Linked DNA regions of Homo sapiens: region 2 is linked to region 1. Evidence: fine-mapped expression QTL. A gene starts in region 1. The other region holds a variant in brackets. All regions are shown on one strand. Distances are from middle to middle.

The links. PIP is the estimated chance that this variant, and not a neighbour inherited with it, causes the effect. A credible set is the group of variants that fine-mapping cannot tell apart.
Region 2: its variant is the best candidate, but not a certain one, in a credible set for the expression of SLC4A11 in fibroblasts (GTEx, PIP 0.53).

The regions. Positions count from the first base shown.
Region 1 is chr20:3,236,051-3,241,421 of GRCh38, forward strand. It overlaps SLC4A11 (solute carrier family 4 member 11), which reads right to left and starts at 3,140. Exons shown (of 20, transcript NM_001174089.2): 1 at 3,045-3,140; 2 at 1,494-1,538. The coding sequence starts at 3,087. RefSeq lists silencers at 2,950-3,129, 3,230-3,389.
Region 2 is chr20:3,330,774-3,336,144 of GRCh38, forward strand. It overlaps DNAAF9 (dynein axonemal assembly factor 9), which reads right to left. Exons shown (of 37, transcript NM_001009984.3): 11 at 1,507-1,588. Among named protein-coding and RNA genes, the nearest start is that of DNAAF9, 74 kb to the right of the region's middle. The variant T/C (reference allele first, on the strand shown) is at 3,282.

The sequences.
Region 1 (5,371 bases):
GCCTGACAGACACCTGTGCAGAAACAAGGATGGGTCAGCAGCACGCCTGCACCTGCCAGGGAGTGACTCACCCTGACTCACTTCTACTCCCGCCGCCAGTTTCCTTGGCACATCCCAGGCCCTGTTCCCCCAGTGTCCTGAGTTTAGCCTGGGCCCCTTCTGGGTAGGAAGCCCTAGTGCCTCCTGCATCAAAGTCCCCAGGGACTGGTGACTCCCAGGCCCAGGCCTGCACTACCTCCAGAGCCCAGAGAAGAAATATTAGGTCAAAAGACATCCTTGCCTTTGGGAGGCCAAGGCAGGCGGATCACGAGGTCAGGAGATCGAGACCATCCTGGCTAACAATGGCTAACATGGTGAAACCCTGTCTCTACTAAAAATACAAAAAGAAATTAGCCGGGTGTGGTGGCGGGCGCCTGTAGTCCCAGCTACTCGGGAGGCTGAGGCAGGAGGCTGGTGTGAACCCAGGAGGCAGAGCTTGCAGTGAGCCGAGATCACACCACTGCACTCCAGCCTGGGCGACAGAGCGAGACTCAAAACAAAACAAAACAAAACAAAACAAAACAAAAGACGTCCTCACTGCTTTGGTTCTGGAGCTCATGATAAACTCCTTCCTCCCCGGGTCAGGCTTGCCTTGTTTAAACTGTCTGGTTCCCCTGGCCCGAACTTGTCCCAGCCTCCCCTCTGCCCCTCAACCAGCACCCACTAGTCCCCTCCACTGCCCTTCACACAGCCCCGTTCTTCCCCCATTCTTCCCCTGATGCCCTCAGCTCTACCTTAGACTTAGTGCTCAGGTCCCCTAGATTAAGGACCTGCCCAGCTGACACTACCAGGTTCCTGGGGGGCTCCTGCAATGCCAAGTCCTAGTCCCAGCCCCATACGTAACCTGCCCACCAGCAGCCTAGCACACAGAGCCCCATGTCCTGAGGGCTCTGGGTAAGGGAACATCAGCCCTGTGTCTACGCACTGCTCTACAAACAACCCTCGAATGGTCAGGTCACTCATGGGGCTAGGCACAGGACACAGCCTGAAGCCAGCCCAGAGACATGAGGAGGAAGACAGCTGGACTGGTACAAGCAGGGACAGCAGGAAGGTGCCCGAGGGACTGCAGCACAGAGGCCTTATATTTCTTTAAAGAGACAACGACAGATATTCCCTCCAGGGCTGGGTGAGGACAGAGGGACAGGGGCACACAGAATTCTTGGCCCAAGGCTAGTCAGATAACAGGCCATTGTCACAGAAAACCTTGGGTAAGAATCCCAGAGGGTTCACCTGGTCCAAGTAGCCCAGGAGAATGGGCAGCCTGCCCTCTCAGGTCCACGGGGGATCCGCCCATGTCTAGCTTCCCGAAGAGTGGAAGCCAAAAGCATTCCAGCACTAGAGTGGCCCAGATAGGCGAGCAAAGCCACAGGACTCTGGTGGGTAGGCTATGCACCCTGGAGGCTTTTGCCCGACAAGCTCTCTCTGCACACACACACTCCCCGAGAGGTACTCACTTGAATCCTCGAAGTATCCATTCTGCGACATGGTGGGAGAGTTTTCTGCAAGGGAAGCAGAAAGGTCACCAGCCCCATGGACCAAGCCCTGGACCTCCTGTGTGCACCTGTCTCCCCGCCCCCCGACCTGGCTCATTCCTTCGCTCTTCCGAGGGATGCAACCCACGCCACCCTAGGGAGAAAGGGAAGCAGGGGACAGTGCTCGGGAGGGGGCCCCATAGCAGGGGAAGCCAGCCTTAATCTCAGAAATTCAATTGCTTAGCCCATCTGCTAGGGGCTGCCCAGGCGGGCCAGAGGCGAGGAGGAGAGACGTTCCAGGGATGTCTTCCCACCGAGTTAGTACCAGTACCATGTTCGCTAATCCAGGTTTTCCTGAGAAAACCCTGCCCCGCTGCAGCGAGAGGAAGGGACCGGGCCCGAGCGGGCCTCTCCCCCTCTCTCCTCGGATGCCAAGGCGGGGGATCTCTCTGCACATCCCTCTTCTCACTCTCAGACCGGTCCTGGGGGCCATAAACGCCCATTGCAGGCGCAGTTCCCCCGACCCCCGTCACGCGCCCCGGGTCACACGGGGGCCGACAGGCAACGGTCTCCAGTCCTGGGACCGCGTCCCGGCCGCCTGGAAGCCAGAGCCGTTGGTCCAAAAGGGAGAACAATTGGGGGTGGGAGGAGTATCTGAGGGACACATGGGTCGGGGGAGGCTGCGCCCTCCCTGGGCCGGTCCCCGGATGGTCCCGGCTGTTTGTGCCTCGCTGTCGGAGGAAGGAAGCGACAGGAGGGGCCGCGTGCACGAGAGGAAAGCGCCTCCAGACTCGGAGACCCCGGGGGTCGGGGCGCAGGATGTGAATGCAGGCGCGGGGCGGGAGCCGGGGCTGCATCCTGAAGTGGGGGGCGGGGGCGCTGGGGCGCGTCCCAGGCCGTGGGCGACGAGGGTCTGGGAGGGTTGGGCCGGTGCACACTCCGCTTCCGTCCCGGCGGCCCACGTGCAGGTAAAGGGTCGTACAAACCTGGGTCCTGGCGGGGACCCAGGGCTGGCCCTCCCGTGTCAGAGCAAGGGAGAAACCGCTGCGGCCGCGCAGGGCACGGTCAGGGGTCCCGGGACTCCCAAAACTCCAGGGGTTCCGGGGCTCCCACCGCGGCGCCGGACGGGAAGATGCCCGGGCGGAAGGTAAAATGAGACCTTCCGAGGCGGCGGCCCGCCAGGCTCCCAAAAGCTCGGCGCTCGGGGCGCTGGGAGCCCCACAGCTCCGCCCTGCCCACTTTCGAGCTCCCCGCCCTCGACCCGCTGCATCAGCTGTTCAAACCTGGTAAGAAATTCAAGACGGCGACAGCAGAGCCCTAATGAAACCAAGCGCGCGGTGGCCGCGAAGCCGCGCCCGGGCCTCCCGCACCCGCGCCCTCCTCCCCGCGGCTGGGAATCCCGCAGCCCTCTCGCCCACCGGCCCCGGCCCGCGCAGGCAGACGGCATCCGCGTTCTCCCCGGGGTCCCCGACGGGAGACGGTGGCGGAGACCCGGGCGGCCTTCCCGCCGCGCCCCCGGGTTCAGGCACCCACCGCACGGCTGCAGATGGAACACGCGCCTGGTGGCCGCGGCCATGGCACACTCGCGCACTCACGGCCGGGCTCCTCACGCGGCGCTCCGGCGCTTCTGGACCCCAAACTCGGCGACTCGGGCGGGCCGGCGGCGGGAGCCGGCGACACACCCCCACGCCGCGCCTGGGTCCTAATGCCGCTCAGACGCCGCGCCCGGGCGCGGTAGGCAGAGCTGCCGAGGGCTGGGACCCGGCCGCCCGCCCCGCGCCCTCACCCGCGGGAGGCTGCTCCAGCCGGGCTGGGCTGCTCCCCGCCGCCCGCAGCTGCTGGGCCAAACCGAGTAGACCCGGCTCCTTCGAGCCTGTGCGCGCCGGACCCAGCAGACCCAGCGTCGCGAGTTTAGGGGCTGGACGGGGCCGGGGAGCTTCTGGGAAAACGTTCGACTGCGCCACGAGCCCACCGAGCTGTGCGACTGAGGCAGACCCCGGGAGGGCTTCCCCCGCGTCCGCTTTAAGTACGCGGCCGGCCCCTGTCTCCTCCTTTCGACCGGGGACCTCCGCAGGGCCACGCCCGCTGGCTGCCCCGCCTCCTGCATTTATCCCGGTAGCTCCGGCCGCAAGTCCTTCTCCTCCTCCTCCAGGAAGCGCGCCCCGACTGACTAGACGGACCTCCGTGCATTCCCCGGGCTACGCCCTCGCCCGCTGAGACGGCGCTCTCCGAGCTCGGCTGCTTTGGGTTTTCGCTGCGAGCCTCGCCAACTTATCTGCCAGCCTCTTCACGTCCTCGGCCTTCTATGAGGTCAAGGTCATGGTTCGCCCCCTTTTTCCTTCCCCAAATGGCCCTTGCGCCCTGTCCCCTTTCCTGGACCGGCTGCGACCCGCCCGGGGACGCGCCTTTTCGGGGCGCTTAGTCTCCTGCGAGTAGGGCGTGTGCGCGTGTGGGTGCGCGTGCTGCGATGCGATCCGGCAAATGCAGCTGACGAACCCCTGGCCTGATCCACGGTGGCTCCCAGTAGAAGGCTCTACAGCCCTTGGAAACGGAACACGCAGCTCCGTAAAGCGCTAACCAACCTCCCGACCCCTCCGGCCGCCATCGCTTTCCGGCTCAGCCGCGCTGGGACGGAGTCCTCGGCCACTGTGCCCTAACCATGGTAGAGGAACGGGGACAGGCCGGGGCAAGCCCACCTCTGCGAAGGAAGGGCTTCTGGCGCGTTGGGGAAGCCTCATGCATAGATTGGGTGAGTAAGGCTGGCCCAGTTCTCCTCCCGGCAAGATAAGAACGCATTAGGAGGGAAGCGCTGGAGTGCTCCTCTTGGCGACGGATGGCCTGGGGCTCTGCGACAGACTGAGTACCCCACCCTCCCCCAGCGCGACTCCAGGAGGCCTTGTGGAAGATCCCAACACCATGACCTGCAACTGACTTGGGGCTGGCCACATAGTATTTTAGCAGGGGTGACTCTGGAGAGACACCAGGTCATCCTGCGCACCCCTTGGGACCTTTCCTAGACGCCCTCCAGCTAGAGCTCCAGTCCAGGCACTGACTCCCGGGTGGCGGGTGGAGGCTGAGGAAGAGCTGAAGGACACAGGCGGATGTCGCCCCCGGAGCATGGCTGCATAGGTGGCATGCAGGCTGGATCCCTGAAAAGCCACCTTGCCACCCCCAGTCTCCCCCATCTGGGAATGCCTTGGCTTCTGCACCTGCTCCCAGCAGCTCCCAAACACCTGGTCCTTCCAACCCACTTGTTCCAGGAAAGCCTCTGGGATGGAGGGCGCTTCCCCTTACCACAGTCTCCTCAGCGCTCCTCAAAGGACCTAACCCCTCAGCCCACTGAGGAAAGAGGAGCCCATGACCAAGCCGCCCCTAGTCGGCTATGGGCCCCCTCTGTCCGCTCCCTGACCGTCTCTCAAAGGAACTGGCACTGAGCCCTTCTCTGCTACACCTGTGCTCTGCCCCTGCGGTTCTGTTCCCTCGGCCTTCCTGGAGGGAACCCCTGAGGCCCACACGCCTGCTGCCTCCAGACTGACCGTTTCAGAGGCTGTTTCCTTCAGTCCTCCCACCTGCCTCCTGTCCTGTGTAGATCGTCTGACGCTGAAGGCAAATACTGGTGCCCCAGATCTCCTGTCCTGTGCCCCACTGGGTCCTTACATAGGCAGGCAGGTTGAGGGACCCAGACGCAGGCACCCACTTTCCCTCTCATTCCCTCCCTTGGGGTCTCAGACTTTACTGGGCTGTGGACTTGAAACTGTAACCGCTGGGTTCCACAAGGCGCACTTAACAGTTTTCTGCTGTCCTCCCCTGATGCCACTTATCTTGCCTGTGGATTGTAGAATCTGGGGTCTGAAGTAAAT
Region 2 (5,371 bases), 95 kb after region 1:
CATTGTCAAGAACTACACTTTTTTTTTTTTTTTTTTGAGACACAGTTTAGCTTTGTCGCCCAGGCTGGAGTGCAGTGGCGTAATCTCGGCTCACTGCAACCTCCGCCTCCCAGGTTCAGGCGATTCTCCTGCCTCAGCCTCCTGAGTAGCTGGGATTACAGGTGCACGCCACCATGCCCCGCTAATTTTTGTGTTTTCAGTAGAGATGGGGTTTTGCCATGTTGGCCAGGCTGGTCTCAAACTCCTGACCTCAAGTGATCCACCCACCTCAGCTTCCAAAGTGCTAGGATTACAGGCGTGAGCCACCATGCCCAGCCTACTTTTTTCTTTTAAGTTAAATATAGTACAAACACCAACAACAGTGGAACCCGGCCATTCCCAATAGCCTCCTGAACCTTCACCCGCATTTTCCACTTTTACAACCCACTCAGCAACACCACTAAATACCAGAGATGTGTGGAATCTTAGGTTCTGGAATGTTTTTGTTTTTATTTTTAATTTTTTAAACTTCGAGACATCAGTAAACAGGCTCAGTTCTACCTCTTGCTTTATCTCCTTAATTACCTGACCCAAGTTATGCTTCTTTCCAGAGTTTCCTGGCTTATTTAACATCATCCAGAATAAAATACGGTTCCTGACGTACTCTCCTCTGTGTAGCAATGCTGAGACCTGCGTTCATTCCATAGGTTCTTTTCCATGTGTCTTTGGATACCTGCAACTTCTGGTTACCCCAGTAAGCAGGGCAGCCCCAGCAAGCCTAGCCTTTCTGGATGGCCCCACAGCATGCTCCTGCTCCTAAGTACCCTTTTATTATGGCCTCTTCTCACTTTCCTCACAAGAACAGTCCAGTGGGCACCTGGCTGAGTCATCCAAATTCCCACTGCGGACCCCACCTCTTGCTTTTTTGTTGTTGTTGTTAAGACAGAGTCTCACTCTGTTGCCCAGGCTAGAGTGCAGTGGCTCAATCTTGGCTCACTGCAACCTCCACCTCCCAAGTTCAAGCGATTATGGTGTCTCAGCCTCCTGAGTAGCTAGGACTACAGGTGTGCACCAGCACGCCTGGCTAATTTTTGTATTTTTAGTAGAGATGGGGTTTTGCCATGTTGGCCAGGCTGGTCTCAAACTCCTGACCTTAAGTGATCTGCCTGCCTGGGCCTCCCAAAGTGCTGGGATTACAGGCGTGAGCCGCCATTCCTGGTCCCTACCTCCTGCTTTCTTAAACTAGGTCTTATTCATCTTGGCCTCCCCTGTGACACCTAGCAAAGGGTTATACACATGGTTAGACTTAATGTAGGCTGCACCAATCATCTTCCTCTTGAAACACATTCTGTGAGAAACGTGTTAGACATATCAACTATCCAGAAGTAATCAGAGAGGGAGCTGGAGGCCCACAAATTGGGTAACCTGAGCTTCCAAGCAAAGTAGTGAATTGTATGTCAACTTCTAGTTCATGGGACAGACTATTCATTAGATAAGCTGATGAGATGACAACTTATAGGGACTTACCCAAGTAAGGAACATGAGTAGCTCCAAAAAAGTATGTTCTCGAACAAGCAAGAGGTCCCTTTGGTGAGACACACTGGGCTACCTGGATGTCAGAAAAAAATAAAAATAAAAAGGGGCAATAACTTAGGCATGTACTAGTAGATAAACAAAAAGTATAGAGTCAATGGAAATAAATTTTCTTTTTTTTTTTTTGAGACAGAGTCTTACTCTGTCATGTAGGATGGAGTGCAGTGGCGCAATCTCAGATCATTGCAACCTCCACCTCCTGGGTTCAAGTGATTCTCCTGCCTCAGCACCCCCAGCAGCTGGGAGTACAGGCACATGCCATCACACCCAGCTAATTTTTTTTTTTTTTTGTATTTTTAGTAGATACAGAGTTTTGCCATGTTGGCCAGGCTGGTCTCAAACTCCCGACCTCAGGTTATCTGCTCGCCTTGGCCTCCCAAAGTGCTGAGATTACAGGTGTGCACCACTGCACCTGGCCAGAAATAAATTTTCTTCTACAAAACAGATTTATTATTTTTTAAAGACACAGGGGAAAAGATGATCTTTAACTGTTTTTCCAAAGGTATCTTTTGGTGCGTGTGCGTGCGTGCATGCGTGTGTGCGTGTGTGCGTGTGGTGTGTGTGTGTGTGTGTGTGTGTGTGTGTGTGTGTGGTTTAAACCTTGGCTATATTGTGAGGGTGCTGTTGGATACTCAGTTAGCCCAGGGATGCTAGGGCAATCATGATTCAGAAGGAAAAAGGAAGCAAGGTGTTTGGGTTTTGACTGTCATTAATACTTAGTCCAGAGCTTTCACAGTGAAGCCCCTGGCTGACATGACAGGCAGAGGTGTGGGACAGCTCCAAATTCAGGAAAGGATGGTGCTATCCACATCCCCACAACCATTTGTATTTCATCTCTGTACATAGACCCTGCGGAAGAGAAAATAAGTTCCTCTAGGTTTTCAAATTTTTATTCTTCTTCCCTGTTAAGATGTTCATTGATACAGAGATAAAATAGATGTCCTTTCCTCTTCTGAAAATCCAACATCTCATGAGGGTTCCTAGAATAATAGGTATAAAATGCAAAAATACTACCACAAGAACTAAAGGAACATTAGTAAGTACAATATACAAAAAGTAGCTAAATACAACACAAATACTCATTCCTTCTATTTTACTCAATTGTTTAAGACAACAACACTAGAATTCAAGGCATTTTTCTATAACATTGTGAATCCAAGTTACAGATTGGAAATGAGAACTTATTCTAACTAAGCTATAAAAAAGTTACTAATAGTGAACATCATCAATATTGCCATGACAATGAATGAAAACTCATGGAGGTATTTCTAATTGCTGGTTGATACATATTTCCTCAATTAAAACATGTTCCTTGGATCTCCAATTTTCCCTTATTAAAGGTTTTTTTTTTAAAGGTGCCAAGTGTTTGTGCTATGAATTGAGTTAAAGTCACATGGTTTAAACCCCAGATTTGAAGTGACACAGTTCTCTTTCACTTGTGTACACTTGAGTACGTGAATCTGAAGTCTATCTCAGTCAGAAGATCAACACACCAGCACAGGTGTTGGCCAGTAGAATGGGATCTATACACAGAGTCAACATTTCTCTCAGGAAAGAACTTTGGATTGTCTTAAGTAGTTAAAATAAGTAACTGTCTAAACCTTGGTGTCATAGAGCACGACTCTTAAAAACATTTTAAGTCAGGCTGAATCAATTGCGAGCTTTCCTGGAAGACTATAAAAAACAAGAAGAACCTCAAGACAGCTTCA[T/C]TGGATGTCTGGTGTAAAGGTACCTATCCTTGTATTCAAAGGAAGATTTTGAAATAAATAAGTAACAATATATATCCAGATAATCTTACCCACAGCCTTGGTTTTAATTACCCCCTTCATACCAAGGGAATGCTCAAATGTTTACTTCTAGACAAGACTAATCCTCGCAACCCTAGACTTATGTATCTAACCCACTGCCGCCTCAGCTCCACTGGGGTGTCTCACGGTCATTTCAAACTCACTGTCTAAAGTGAACTTCACACACATCCAATCTGACTCTCCTCAGTGTTCCCTCTCCAAATGAATAGTTTCTTTGTCCACTCAGTACAGACATCAGAATCTTGGAGCTTCCATGGCTTTTTGTGGCTTGACAGCTCTTTTCTTTTTATCCCTAAATAGCATCCATTCACTTACTGAAAGACATCTTGGTTGCTTCTAAGTTTTGGTAATTATAAATATCCATATGCAGGTTTTTGTGTGGACATAAGTTTTTAATTCTTTGGGTAAATACCAAAAAGCGAAATTGCTGGATCTTATGGTAAGGCTATATTTAGTTTTGTAAGGAAATGCCAAACTGTCTTCCAAAGTGACTGTACCTTTTTGCATTCCCACCGGCAATAAATCAGAGTTCCTGTTGCTCCATATCCTCACCAGCATTTGGTGTTGTCAGTCTTCTGAATTTTAGCCATTCTAATAGGCGTGTAATGGACATCTAAATTATTGCTCCAAACATTTCCTAGCTGGCTCTCAAGTCAGCCCCAGGATGATAAGAAATTCACGACTCAGAAGGAAAAAGGAAGCAATGTGTTTCGGTTCAAACATTTCCTAGCTGGCTTTCCCTGGAGTTTTCAAGTCTATGAGATCCTCAAAGGCAAAGATCATGACTATCCCTTCATCTAGCACAGTGACTGGCATTTACTAGACATTCAACAAGGATTACTGACTTAATGAGTGAAAACTCTTTGGCTTTGGAGTGATACAGACCTGAGAGCAGAAATTGCTTTTATAATACAATCTATAATGTGGATATACACTGGGTGGTTTTTTATTTTTATTTTTTTGGCAACTTTTGAGATAAAACCATTTTAAAGTATATAATTCTGTGGTACACTGCCTTGATCATTTTGTTCTCTTCCCTTCCTGATGTTCCAAGATTCCTTCTTTTATCATTTCCTCTCTGTTTAGACCAAATTTCTTTAAGTTATTCTTTTAGGTAGGTCTTCCAGCAACAAATTCTTGTAGTTTTCGTTCATCTGTGAATGTCTTGATTTTCCCTTAATTCTAGAAGGATATTTTTGTTAGATACAGATTTCTAGGTTGACAACTCTTCTCTTTCAGCATTTGAAATATAGGTGCCACTTCCTTCTGGCCTTCATGGTTTCTGATGAGAAAGAAATACAACTTTCACTCAAAAATTGTTGGCCGGGCATGGTGGGTCACGCCTGTAATCCTAGCACTTTGGGAGGTCGAGGCGGGTGGATCACCTGAGGTCAGGAGTTCGAGACCAGCCTGGCCAACATAGTGAAACCCTGTCGCTACTAAAAATACAAAAATTAGCCAGGTGTGGTGGTGGGCACCTGTAATCCCAACTCCTTGGGAGGCTGAGGCAGGAGAATAGCTTGAACCCAGGAGGTGGAGGTTGCAGTGAGCCGAGATCATGCCACTGCACTCCAGTCTGGGTGACAAGAGCAAAACTCCGTCTCAAAAAAAAAAAAAAAAAAAAATTGTCTTCCCCCTATGGGTAAGGTGCTATTTCTTTCTGGCTGTTTTCAAGATTTTTTGTTTGGGCTGAGCGTGGTGGCTCATGCCTGTTATCTCAGCACTTTAAGAGGCCAAGGCAGGTGCATCACTTGAGGTCAGGAGTTCAAGACCAGCCTGGCCAACATGGCAAAACCCTGTCTCTACTAAAAATACAAAAATTAGCCAGGCATGGTGGTGCGCACTTGTAGTCCCAGCTACTTAGGAGGCTGAGGCATGAGAATTGCTTGAACCCAGGAGGCGGAGATTGCAGTGATTCAAGATTGAGCCACTGCACTCCAGCCTGGGTGACAGAGCGAGACCCCATTTCAAAAAAAAAATATTTTTTGTCT